Homo sapiens: one gene and its partners. The protein of the gene in region 1 purifies or fractionates together with the protein of each later gene. This does not show direct contact. Each region holds a gene or a part of one and is shown in the gene's direction. Other genes may lie near its edges.

Region 1 (3,500 bases):
CAAAAGTAACCAGGGGCTCACAGTGGGTCGGGAACCAGGGCAGAGAGACAGAGACAGGAGGCACGTGTGGGCAGCTAGTAGATTTCCTGCCTTATCGGGGCAGCACTGGGAAGAGGCATGGGGAAGCAAGATTCCTTGGGTGCCTGCAGCGATGGAGGCTGGACTCTGCAACCCACAGCCAGCTGGCCTTGGATGGAGACTTCTGTTTACTCAGTGCCCACCTAATCCCCCTCGATCACGTTGTGATTGTTTTTGTTTGTTTGTTTGTTTTTCCCAGGAAAAATGGCAGGACAGTTCTTCAGCAACAGCTCTATTATGTCCAACCCTTTGTTGGGGCTGGTGATCGGGGTGCTGGTGACCGTCTTGGTGCAGAGCTCCAGCACCTCAACGTCCATCGTTGTCAGCATGGTGTCCTCTTCATGTGAGTCGGGGCACCCATGAGCCCACCTGCATTCCAGACACTCTCCTGTCTATCTGAGGGTGGGAAGGACGGGGGAGGAATTCACTCTGAATATGTCCAGGCCTTGCCACCATTGTCTTGGTATCTTGCCCCAGCTACAATGTGTTTCCCTCTTGATCCAAGGCAACTTCCTGTTTCCATTTCGATGGCAGGATCTGGAAATAGACCCTGCTGCTGGAGTTCTCAGCTCTGAATTCTCTAGTACTGTACTTTCCAGACCTGTAGCCACTAGCCACATGTGGCAGTTTAATTTTGTTGAACCTTAATTGATTTAAAATTAAAATATAACATTCAGTTCCTCAGTTGTACTAGTTACATTTCAAGTGTTAAAGAGCCACATGTGGCTGGCTGGCAGCTACCCTATTGAGAAGTAGAGACATAGAACATTTCCTTCACTGCAGAAAGTTAGTTCTCTGGGACAGGGCCACTCTCAGTGCTAAGAAGAAAGACAACTTAATCACATCACAAATTGCTCTGGGACAACCGAGCTTGGGAGATGGCACACTAAACTTGTACCTGTCTGATAATTGCTGCAGCTACGTTGGACAGACCCTCTGAGGGGGACCAGTTTGAACTGATTATTATTATTTTTTTTTCTATTTTCTTTTTAAATAGAGACTTGGGTCTCACTGTGTTGCCCAGGCTGGTCTCAAACTTCTGGGCTCAAGTGATCCTCCCAAAATGCTGGGATTACAGGCCTGAGCCACAGCCCCTGACCAGAACTATTTTTCTTCCCAAGCTAGCATCTTAGCCAAAATTAACTAGAATGTTTCTCGTCCAGTTAGAAAAAGGTATTACACTTTCAAAATATTTTACTTGTTTATATCAAAAAAGGTGCAGCAATATGCTGATTTTGTTGGAAAAAGTTACACTGCCTAGAATTAAATGTCTGATATCCAGCACAGAAATGATGCTTCCTGGCTGGGCCTAGTGGCTCACGCCTATAATCCCAGCACTCTGGGAGGCTGAGGTGGGAGGCTCACCTGAGGTTGGGAATCTGAGACCAGCCTGACCAACACGGTGAAACCCCGTCTCTACTAAAAATACAAAAATTAGCTGGATGTGGTGGTGCATGCCTCCAGTCTCAGCTACTCAGGAGGCTGAGGCAAGAGAATCACTTTAACCTGGGAGGTAGAGGTTGCAGTGAGCTGAGATCGAGCCACTGCTCTCCAGCCTGGGAGACAGAGCGAGATCCATCTCAAAAAATAAAAATAAAAAAGAAAAGAAAAAAAACTGATGCTTCCTTAAAGGCGAGCCTGTGTGCCATGCACAACTGACTCAACTGTACATGCAAGCCCTGCACTCATCCACCTAAGTCCTTAATCAGTGGGTGCCTCCTGGTCTCCTTCAGGCTAGCCTTGGATCTGCAATAGGGAGGAAGGAGGAAGCTAGAAAGGCACTTTCTTCAGATTCATAGTGAGGTGCAGAGTGAGGTGCAAAAAAAAAGTTTAAGAATTCACTTGCATAGAGGATAAAAACTACTTCTTTAGAGGATACCAGCATAGGTAACTTTAGCCTGCCTCCAGGCTGCCTTTCTAAGCTTGCTAATGGTACTTTTCCATCCTCTAGTGCTCACTGTTCGGGCTGCCATCCCCATTATCATGGGGGCCAACATTGGAACGTCAATCACCAACACTATTGTTGCGCTCATGCAGGTGGGAGATCGGAGTGAGTTCAGAAGGTAAGAGGCTCAAAACCAGCCTTTGCGACATCAGCTCTATTGTTCTTGGCCACGCTGTTGTAACTGCTTTTAACCAGCCAAAGATGACATGCTTATCAGGTTCATTCCTGGAGTTCCTAGAAGTAACCACAGGGAGGTATGGCTAGGGTTGGATCACATACTCACCAGCTGATTAGACTCAGCTCCCTGATCGGCAGAGCAGGGATAATACTATCTATCACTACTGAGTTGTTGTAGGATTAAATATACAACCCAGCAGGTGAGTGTTCAGAGCACCCAGCACATTGAGTTCACTAAATAAATGCAAACTCTAGCTAGAAACTTAGCCGCTGGGTGGCGGAATTGAAGCAAGGCCAGTTAGAAGAGTAGGATTTATTGGGACTGGGCGTGGTGGCTCATGCCTGTAATCCCAGCACTCTGGGAGGCCCAGGCGGGTGGATCGCCTGAGGTCAGGAGCCTGGCCAACATGGTGAAACCCCATCTCTTCTAAAAATACAAAAATTAGCCGGCCGTGGTTGCCAGCGTCTGTAATCCCAGCTACTCTGGAGGCTGAGGCAGGAGAATCGCTTGAACCCGGGAGGCGGAGGTTGCAGTGAGTCGAGATCGTGCCACTGCACTCCAGCCTGGGTGACAGAGTGAGACTCCATCTAAAAAAAAAAAAAAAAATAAATAAATACTGTTTTGTTTGGTCATAATTATAACTTATTTAAACTTCCACTTTCGGTCAGCTCAACCCATGCCACCTTTTCTTTGTTCTTCACTTACAAGTTAATAAAAAACAAAACCTAGTTTCTGCGTATGCAGAAACTCTGAAACTAGAGCAGGTAGAATGCTGGAAACTCTTTTCTTTCAAAAAGGTTAATGTGAAAATTAAGTGTTTCTTAGCCTCTTCTAGCTAGTTTTTTTTTTTTTTCAGTTTTTTTTTAAAAGGTAAGCTGTTTCATTGAAGACATAAAAATCCAGAACAGAGTTTTTTAAATCTGGAGATAAGATGGAATCGAGGAGGAATCTTTGAACCTCCTCAGATGGATGCAAAATGTTTTAGCCTTGTTTCCCATGGAAACTATTCATGTTTCATCACTTTCAAGAACTTAAAAAAAGTTTAAGAATTCACTTGCATAGAGGTCTTTTTAAGTTAAATTTTTTTATTGATACAAAATATTTTTACACCTTTCTGGGAAACATGTGATATTTTGTTACATTCATAGAATGTGTAGTGATCAAATCAGGGTATTTGAGGTGCCCACCGCTTTGGGGATTTATGATTTCTATGTGTTTGGAACAATTGAAAACTCCAGCATAGAGGGCTTTGGTTGCCTTCATACTGGTCCCCACCTTTCCAAAAGAAGGTAGCCTTCA
Region 2 (2,417 bases), on another chromosome or scaffold:
ATTATTCAAACAGCATTTATTATTTTCTTTCATAATCATCAAAAGCTACAACTAAAAATTTAAAGCATTTGTCAAATGATGCTAGGGAAATTCCTCAATGATAAAATCTAGGAGAAAGTAATTTCTTTGGATTTCAATTACAGCAGTTTTATAAGGTAAGTTCAGAAAGTGAACTAAATATGGATTACTCTGAAAGATGTGTTACTAAATATTTTTCAAGATTTTTAGATTTTTCTTTTTCTGTTCTTTTCTTTTTTTTTTAACAACAGGAGGATTATACTGACTGTGGTGGTGTTTCTGGATTAAATCCCTCCCTGTGGTATATCATTGGAATCCAGTTTCTACTACTTTGGCTGGTATCTGGCAGCACACACCGCCTGTTATGACCTTCTAAAAACCAAATCTGCATAGTTAAACTCCAGACCCTGCCAAAACATGAGCCCTGCCCTCAATTACAGTAACGTAGGGTCAGCTATAAAATCAGACAAACATTAGCTGGGCCTGTTCCATGGCATAACACTAAGGCGCAGACTCCTAAGGCACCCACTGGCTGCATGTCAGGGTGTCAGATCCTTAAACGTGTGTGAATGCTGCATCATCTATGTGTAACATCAAAGCAAAATCCTATACGTGTCCTCTATTGGAAAATTTGGGAGTTTGTTGTTGCATTGTTGGTGATTACATGTGAAAGGGTTCCCCATACAATTGTTAATGAACCATAAGAAATGTCTTGATATTGACCTGGAATTTTGACTTGCTGCAATTTTACTAAGAAAATCTCTAAGGGGAAAGAAATTATTTTTGCCTTCACTTTTTCTTCTGTGAAAAGTTAATTCCTGCTTTAAGTAGCAATTATTGAAATATATAGAGAAAGAGAGAATTAACATTGGTCTAAATTGTTGAAATATAAATAATGGCTAATTTTCTATGAAAAATTTGCCATGAATAAAATGCCTTATGAAGAACGGCTTCTTTGCCAAAAATAAAACACAATTGATGACCAATTCAATTTTGATGGGGTAATGAATTGATGGTTTGAAAATAGTAACTAAGAAATTATTAAACTAAAGGTGCTTGAGGGAGAAATTAGAATATGTGACATATTTCCTCATAAATGTAAGCAAGCCCTTAATAAATGCTTTGATGTAATGTTCCTTTTGTTCACAGTACAGTTATGTAGTGCTAGCCAGATATTTAAAAATGCTCTAAGAAAAGCTTGTCAGGGGGGAGGGGGAAATGTTTTTCTTGTGATAAATGAACTTTGGTTTACCAAGGGTATTTTGCATGATGCTGCTGCTATTTTAACTTTTCAGTTGTTTTTTCTCTTACTGTAGAGTGTAGTCATTGAAAAGTTAACTGAGTGATATTGTTATGTAAGAATCTGAACCTTGCAGTGTAAATGCACTTAAGTCATCTTTAAAATGTTGTTAAACTACTCTGAATATACTGTGCAATGTAAATGCTGAATGATTGGGGTTAGATAAATGGTGAAATGAGAATTAATGAATTTTATACAGATTCATGCTTTCGCCTGATAACCTATGTACAGATATTTTAAGTACATAAATCAGATTTGACACATTTATTTTTTGAAAAGTACATATATGTTCTCAATGAAGATTCATCCTAGGTTTCCTCTTTGTTCGTTTCAATAGTAGCACATACAATCCAAAAGTTCCTGCTACTGCTGCTTTTGCCCTTCCATTTTAAATGGTATGATCGTTTGGCCAAAATTTCCATGCAAGTTGATAAGGGTTTTACAATAATCTGAACAAATAGGAAACCTTGAATCTCTATGTATGCACATGAATACTTGATTGTGAATAATAAAAGTTGTTTTTTATACAGCCTCATTGGTGAAAATGGTTAGTGTAGTAAATCAGATATTTCATTATAGACTAATATGGTAGCAGATTATTTATGCTTTTAAAAATTATTTTCTGGAGCAAACAGTATTTGAAGAAAAGGTAAAAACTATGAATGTGTAATTCTAAGAATAGTTAATAATTTTACTGAAGGCTGAACGTATGTAGATATTTTTTATGATAAAATGCAGTTTTTCTTTTTTTGGAACATGCCAATTACTGGTATGTGTATATGCTGGAAATTTTCTTACATATCCTTTTTAAGTCAAAGTTATTAACATTATCCAGCATGCTTTAATATGCTCCACATATCAAAGATATAACCAATAATTTAACGTAGCTTAAAAGATAACATTTGTTTTGTTTTTAGCTTTGCATACATTTGTAATTCCCTCCCACCACCAATATACCTTAGGTACCATTTGTGTACATTTCAAGATTTTTTTTTTCAATAAAAAGGTGGGGGGAAATGGAATCACTTTGCCAACTATTGTTCTAAGAGTTGACATCAGTTACCATTTCTAATGCATTGTTGTGATTTTGTAGTGTCAT
Region 3 (3,500 bases), on another chromosome or scaffold:
GTAAACAAGACGGGCTTGGTGCTCTCATGGAACTGACATTGTAAACAGGGAAGATGGACAATAAGCAAGCCAACAAGGTAAGTTCACATGTGATAGTGCTCTGAGAAAAAGGAAGCTGGGGAAGAAATAGCGACCAGACAGGCAGGAGAGGTGGCACTTGAGATGAGGTGGTCAGGGGAGTCTTCTGAGGAGGTGACCTTGGGGCAGAGGCCTGAATGAGGAGGAGGCAGCCGCATGATGATGTGGGAAGATTGGGCGAGGCCATGGCGTAGTCAGGGAAGAGGCCCTGTGAGGAGAAGCAGCTTGGCTGAGGGTGGTGGGTTGGGCTGAGCTGACAAGGTCGCTGGGATCTGCACTCCCACAATGAGGAGGCTGGACCCCAAGGAGTTGGAGCTGCCCACCTGGACCCCAAGGAGGTGGAGCTGCCCGCCTGGACCTCTGGCTCTCTCCACCATTCTGTCCACTAGCCTGGCCTCTCCTGGAGTCAGCACACACACATGCACACACACAGACACACACGCACACACACATAAACACACATGCATGTACACACACCCTTCAGCAGTATGTGCCAGAGAGGCTGGAAAGTAGTTTCAGTTCTACACACTGGCTGGAAAACGACAACTGACAGGTGAGATGAGGAGTTTCTGGAGTGGAGAAATGTTCCTGAATACTTTGAGGGCTGACGTCAAAGGGGCCAAACTGCTCAGTGTTTGTAGTTAACTGAGAAAGAGCCAGCTTGAGGCAGGGGAATAGCCTCTTTCTCTGTCTGCAGAGGAAGCGCAAGGACCATGTGCCCAAGAGAAAGGCAAAGGGCCTCCCCCAACATCCATCCTGGCCAGCCTGGCTCCGGGCTTGGAAGCAGGTGAGAGCCACTCACGGTCTCAGCTCAGGGACTTGGGATGCCCAGCAACTCTGCCCACCAACTAACTGGTATGAGGCAGTTCATTCCTTTACTCTGGCTTGGGGTTTTGTCACTGTATTCTTTTTAATTTTTTTGAGACAGTCTTGCTGTGTCGCACAGGCAGGAGTGCAGTGGTGCAATCTCGGCTCACTGCAACCTCCGCCTCCTGGGTTCAAGCGATTCTCCTGCCTCAGCTTCCCAAGTAGCTGTAGCTGGGATTAAAAGAGTGTACCACCATGCCTGGCTATTTTTTTGTTTTTTGTTGTTGTGTTTTTTTTTGAGATGGAGTCTCGCTCTGTCGCCAGGCTGGAGTGCAGTGGCACAATCTCGGCTCACTGCAACCTCCGCCTCCTGGGTTCAAGCAATTCTCCTGCCTCAGCCTCCTGAGTAGCTGGGATTACAGGCGTGAGCCACTGTGCCTGGCTGAATTTTATTTTCTGTAGAGACGAAGTCTTGCTTTGTTGCCCCTGCTAGTCTTGAACTCCTGGCCTCAAGCAATCTTCCTGCCTTAACCTCCCAAAGTGCTGAGATTACAGGTGTGAGCCACTGTGCCACCATGCCTGGCAGGAATATATTAGTGATCACAATATGTGTGGAAAGGTTAAATTTTCCCCATTATAAACAAAGGCTCAGTTTGGATAAAAAATAAAAATGTGGGAATATGCTGTCAACAAAAAGACCCATCTAAAATAGAAAGGCACTGGTTTTTAACCCCTTTCACAATCACATCTTCCTGGGAGGGATTGGAGCCCAGAGATCCCCATCATTTACCATGTGATCTTAGGCATGTTGACCTCCAGACCTTAGTTTCCTTATCTGTAAAGTGGGATAATGTTCCCAGGGCTCTGCGGAGAACACTGTAACAATGCATGTGGGAGGGATAATGATTTGCTTAATCAGCCATTTACACTTTAGTATGAATGTGTTTCACATCCTTTCCTGAGACTGTTTAGATCAGGAGAGGTGGGGAAAAGCTCAAGAGCATCTGGGAGGGAAAGTCAAGGAGTGAGGGTCAGGGGCCAGCCTTTATCTGCAGGCTGTCCACTGAATGTCCTGTGGCCTGGGTGGGGCCCTGGCTATCCAACCCTGAGATCAAAAGAAGTCCAGTCTCCCAGGCCCAGACACAGCTTCTTGGGGCCAGTGATGTTGACTTGTGGCTCTAGGTGACACAAGAAATGGGGGAGGAAGTGATTGCAATAGCAGAGGGTGAGGAAATCCTGGGCGTCATTCTTGTTTTATCGAGAAACAGGATGAACAGAGGCCAGATCTGCTCAACCCTCCTTCAGTAAGCAGTCATTGAAACAACTTGTGCTGGCCAGGTGCGGTGGCTCACGCCTGTAATGCCAGCACTTTGGGAAGCTGAGGCGGGCGGATCACCTGAGGTCAAGGAGTTTGAGACCAGCCTGGCTAACATGGCGAAACCCCATTTCTACTAAAAATACAAATACAAAAAAAAAAAAATTAGCTGGGCGTGGTGGCGCATGACTGTAATCCCAGCTGCTTGGGAGGCTGAGGCCAGAGAATCACTTGAACCCAGGAGGCAGAGGTTGCAGTGAGCCGAGATTGCACCATTGCACTCCAGCTTGGGCACAGAGCGAAACTCTGTCTCAAAAAAAAAAAAAAAAAAAAGAAACTACTGTGCCAGGCCGTGTTGGGTTCGCATGAGAAGTCTACTCCATCTCACCTGTTTCTTTGGATTCCTTTCTCTTTATTACACTGTGAAGTTTTTTGCCACTTCAGCCTCCTTTGGTCGGAAACTGAGTCTAGGTTTCGGTCAATCACCTCAGCAAGCAGGACCACTCCCAGCTGCTTGAGCCACACCTTGGATCCAGAATCACCAGCAAATATACCTACCAGAGGAGGTCAGCCCGATCTGAAGTGGCGTTCCTTTTTCCCTGGTCTAGTACTCTTATACTCACTTCCACATGTAGTCCCCAGGTTTTTGCTGTTTTTGTTTTGTTTTGTTTTGGAGACAGAGTCTTGCTCTGTCACCCAGGCTGCAGTGCAGTGGCATGATCATGGCTCACTGCAGCCTCCACCTCCTGGGCTCAGGCGATCCTCTCACCTTAGCCTCCTGAGTAGCTGGGACCACAGGTACATGACCCCACACCCGACGAATTTTCTAAATTTTGTGTAGAGATGAGGTCCGCCTATGTAGCCCAGGCTGGTCTTGAACTCCTGGCCTCAAAGAATCATCTTACCTTGGCCTCCCAAAGTACTGGGATTACAGGCATGAACCACTGCACCCGGGCTTTGCTGGTATTGCTTAGCAAGGTTTTCCAGCTCATTTGGTGTGTAAGCCTTTTCCATCCAGGTCAGACTTTTTTCTTTTTTTTTTTTTTTAATTTTCCAAGAAATTCCAGGACAGGTCAGATTTTCATATGTAGTTATATTTCCCTGCAGCATGAGAGGATATGGCTCTAGTTAATGGGCTTAGAAAAGTGACATAGCCCAGGTCACACAGCTCCTAAGTGGCTCAGAGCCTGAGCACTTAACCCATACCCTCTCCCGCCTTTGCTTTAAAACAAGCCCCCTCATTAGAATGCCTGAGCTCTAATGTTGTGGCTGCCCATCCAATGTGGGGAGGAGGACGGGG
Region 4 (3,500 bases), on another chromosome or scaffold:
ATGCCATTTTTTCTAATAGGCATAGAAAGAAAAGATCAGGATGAGGCAGCTGGCTCCTGACCCATTCTCCCCTGACGTGGAGACCCCTCATCTTACCCTTGAGTCCTCAGGCCTAAGACCCCTCCCTGTCTTCCCAGGCTCAGCTCCGCCCCCTGCCCTAAGACAGAGAGAATGAGAGTGTGGGGGTGGCGGCGGCAGGGGGGATTTAGATAGATGTTAGAAAATCACAGATACCTTCCAGCTTAATGAAACCAGCCTCCCCAGTCCAGGCCTGGCATCTAGACTGAGTTCCCCAGACCCAGGGTGGGGTCATAGCCAGAGAGCCAGTGAAGGTAAATCCATGTGACTCAACTCTCCCCTCCCTAGGCCCTTATCTCCAGAGGCCAGAGCTTCCATCCACCCAGGCAGCCTGGTGATCTGTCCTCACTGCCCCCTCCCCACGCCCACCCTACTGGGCCATGAAGGGGATGGGGGCAAGCCCAGCTGACTGCTCCACCCTCTGCCCAGGAGGACCATGCGGCAGTAGCAGCCATGCTGCCCTTTCTGCTGGCCACACTGGGCACCACAGCCCTCAACAACAGCAACCCCAAGGACTACTGCTACAGCGCCCGCATCCGCAGCACTGTCCTGCAGGGCCTGCCCTTTGGGGGCGTCCCCACCGTGCTGGCTCTCGACTTCATGTGCTTCCTTGTAAGTGCCTGCTGCCACCCCTTACCTTGGCATCCATGCCCTGTACACACCTGGCAAACACTTCCAGCTCTAACCACTCTCCCACCTGCCCCGGTTTCCCAGGCTTAAGCAGGAGGAGTCCCCATCATCCAGCCCAAGCCTCGCCTTTGACCATTCACCCAAGCCAGGGTCATCCCCTTCTAAGACAAGATTTTGGACCCTCTGCTTCTGCCCCCTAGTCCAGCAGGTGGACAGACAGCCTCTGCACTTGCCAACTGCCCCCTCTTCCCTCAGGCACTGCTGTTCTTATTCTCTATCCTCCGGAAGGTGGCCTGGGACTATGGGCGGCTGGCCTTGGTGACAGATGCAGACAGGTAAGGGTCTGGGACCCTCCCTCTAGCTCTCCACACACACATCTTGTTCCACACTCCTCAGGAATAGGAAGGAGCCAGCCCTCTCTCATTCCCCTTTGCTGGGGGGATGAGAAGGGACTAGCCCCAATGTGGGCATGGGGGCATGAGGGCCCTAAGTTGGGCCCCTGTTCCTCACCTGTCCCCAGGGACTCTCCCCCGCCCCTGCTAACCCTGTCTGTTCTCTGTCCCCAGGCTTCGGCGGCAGGAGAGGGACCGAGTGGAACAGGAATAGTATGTGGGGCACCAGCCCCCTCATTCCCACTAAACCAGCTTTCCCTTTTCTTCTCTCACGCTTCTCTTCTCTTCCTGCCAAGTTGCTGGTTTCTTTTTGCAGTTTTCTCCTCTGCAGGCTCATGTTTCGGATTAACGCAGGCGGTGTGCTTTGCAGAGCAGGGGGCTCCCCAGCTTGTCTCTGCCTCACCTCCCCTTCATCTCTCCCTCTGGCTCCCTGCCTGGGAGAAGTCCCTCCCTGTGTGCCCCTGCCTATGCAGCCCTTGTTGGCTGGAGGGGAGGGGCTGTCCTCCAGGAAATCCTCAGCACAATCACGTAGAGACAAGATTGGGTGTCACCAGCAGCTTCTTGTCCGCTAACAGCTAGTTCTTCATATTCCAGGGTTCCCTGCTCACCTCTTCTGGAGGCCTGGGAGGAGGGCTGCCCAAGGAGCCCCCCAGTCTGGGCTTTTTTGTCACTTTGTCATCTCTGTCTATAGGATTGGAGTTGGAGTTGTAACAGCTGTTGGAGTCAGGGAAGAGGGAGGGGAGCGGAGGGTAGGGTCCCACCCAGGAGACCTTCCAGTCTCCCCAGCCCTTCCAGGTTCTCCTGGTCCATCCTTTCCTCCACCTCCTCATTGCTCTTTGCATAATGTTGGCTCCGTTGCCCGCCCCCGGCCCCTGCCAGTCAACTCTGGAACTGCAGGGCCCTCTGGCATTCTCGCTTCAGCCTCCTTAGGGAGATGATGAAGATTACCTCCTCCCTCAAGTCCCCACTGCCCACCATCAGTGCCCACCTCCGCTCCCACCCTGAGTCCCCCTGAAAGGAAGAGGCATATTTGAGGGAAGCAGGGTAGAGGGCAGTCATTCCTCTCTGCTTCAGCCTCTGCGCTTCCTGTGCCTTCTGTGCCTTCTGTAGCCCTGGAGCTCTGGAGCACTCAGCCCAGCTTCCCGGGGGCTCAGACTCACCAGGCTCTCTGATCTCTCATCTCCCTCACCCCCAGTGTGGCTTCAGCTATGCACGGGGACAGCCATGACCGGTATGAGCGTCTCACCTCTGTCTCCAGCTCCGTTGACTTTGACCAAAGGGACAATGTGAGTGCCCTCCCCCCAAACTTCTTAGTCCCCCACCCCACCCCCAGGGCACATGGGCTGAGAAGTCCCTCACTTTCAGTGATGTGGAGTCAGGGATGCTGGTTTGGCCTCCTCCTCAGCAAAGAAAGTGATTCAACCAAGGAGCCACAGGATGACCCCCCAGGCCCTGAACTCCTGGCTGCTGTCCTCTATGTCACAGTCTCCAAACTAGCACAGCCTTAACATTCATGAATTCCCAACTTTGTTTGCCATAAAGAGTTTTGTGCCCACTTCTGCTGATTAATCCTAAGGCCACCTTTTTTCCGTAGTCATGGTTTTAGAAATAATAATAAGCCCTTGGCTCACGCCTGTAATCCCAGCACTTTGGGAGGCCGAGGCGGGAGGATCACGAGGTCACTAGATGAGACCATCCTGGCTAACACGGTGAAACCCCGTCTCTACTAAAAATACAAAAAATTAGCCAGGCGTGGTGGTGGGCGCCTGTAGTCCCAGCTACTTGGGAGGCTGAGGCAGGAGAATGGCGTGAACGCGGGAGGCGGAGCTTGCAGTGAGCTGAGATGGCGCCACTGCACTCTAGCCTGGGTGACAGAGCGAGACTCCATCTCAAAACAAACAAAAAAAAGAAATAATAAGCCCTCCAGCCCTGCCTAGAAAAACAGAATCTGTCATGTTGCTCGGAGGTTGCAGGTGGGTGGCCCCTGGCCATGTGGGGCCGGTTGACCTGCTTGTGGATTGGAGCTGAGTGGCAGTGGTCCCTTTTAACAAGGCATATGAATGGCAATTCATAACAGACTCCAGACCCCTTTCATATCAGACCTAACACACAGGTGTTACCTGCCTGGCTCTCCATCATTAATTCCATGAGGGTAAGGAGCCTAGTCAGAACTCTAATCCTCAGACATGGTGTGGCCCTGGTCAGTCCCTCTTGGGCTGCAAGTCCTAGGGGTGGCAGCTCTTCCAGCAATTCCAGCAGAAGATGGCCTTCAGCTTCCTGAGTTGGACTCATACTGGTAGGTGGCAAAGTTGTCACATCTGCTAGCCAGAAGTGTCCAGATGGTCCCCAGACTCAGGTGATGTTGGCAACAGGTAGCATGGTCCTGAATCACGGCCGAAA

What was found.
Region 2: the proteins of SLC34A2 (region 1) and CACNA2D1 purify together in Homo sapiens (affinity purification with mass spectrometry; 2 studies listed by BioGRID and IntAct, with this or other methods). This does not show direct contact.
Region 3: the proteins of SLC34A2 (region 1) and SMPDL3B purify together in Homo sapiens (affinity purification with mass spectrometry; one large-scale study listed by BioGRID and IntAct). This does not show direct contact.
Region 4: the proteins of SLC34A2 (region 1) and TMEM63B purify together in Homo sapiens (affinity purification with mass spectrometry; 2 studies listed by BioGRID and IntAct, with this or other methods). This does not show direct contact.

Annotation. Positions count from the first base shown.
Region 1 is NC_000004.12:25,665,851-25,669,350, forward strand, and holds part of SLC34A2 (sodium-dependent phosphate transport protein 2B), read left to right. Parts: intron 1-277; coding exon 278-421; intron 422-2,029; coding exon 2,030-2,141; intron 2,142-3,500. UniProt on the Homo sapiens protein: Involved in actively transporting phosphate into cells via Na(+) cotransport.
Region 2 is NC_000007.14:81,948,361-81,950,777, reverse strand, and holds part of CACNA2D1 (voltage-dependent calcium channel subunit alpha-2/delta-1 isoform 1 preproprotein), read left to right. Parts: intron 1-269; coding exon 270-386; 3' UTR 387-2,417. UniProt on the Homo sapiens protein: The alpha-2/delta subunit of voltage-dependent calcium channels regulates calcium current density and activation/inactivation kinetics of the calcium channel. Plays an important role in excitation-contraction coupling.
Region 3 is NC_000001.11:27,941,500-27,944,999, forward strand, and holds part of SMPDL3B (acid sphingomyelinase-like phosphodiesterase 3b isoform 1 precursor), read left to right. Parts: intron 1-775; coding exon of another isoform or gene 776-865; intron 866-3,500. UniProt on the Homo sapiens protein: Lipid-modulating phosphodiesterase. Active on the surface of macrophages and dendritic cells and strongly influences macrophage lipid composition and membrane fluidity. Acts as a negative regulator of Toll-like receptor signaling.
Region 4 is NC_000006.12:44,134,054-44,137,553, forward strand, and holds part of TMEM63B (mechanosensitive cation channel TMEM63B), read left to right. Parts: intron 1-366; exon of another isoform or gene 367-507; coding exon of another isoform or gene 508-531; coding exon 532-690; intron 691-963; coding exon 964-1,043; intron 1,044-1,274; coding exon 1,275-1,313; intron 1,314-2,295; coding exon 2,296-2,386; intron 2,387-3,500. UniProt on the Homo sapiens protein: Mechanosensitive cation channel with low conductance and high activation threshold. Osmosensitive cation channel preferentially activated by hypotonic stress.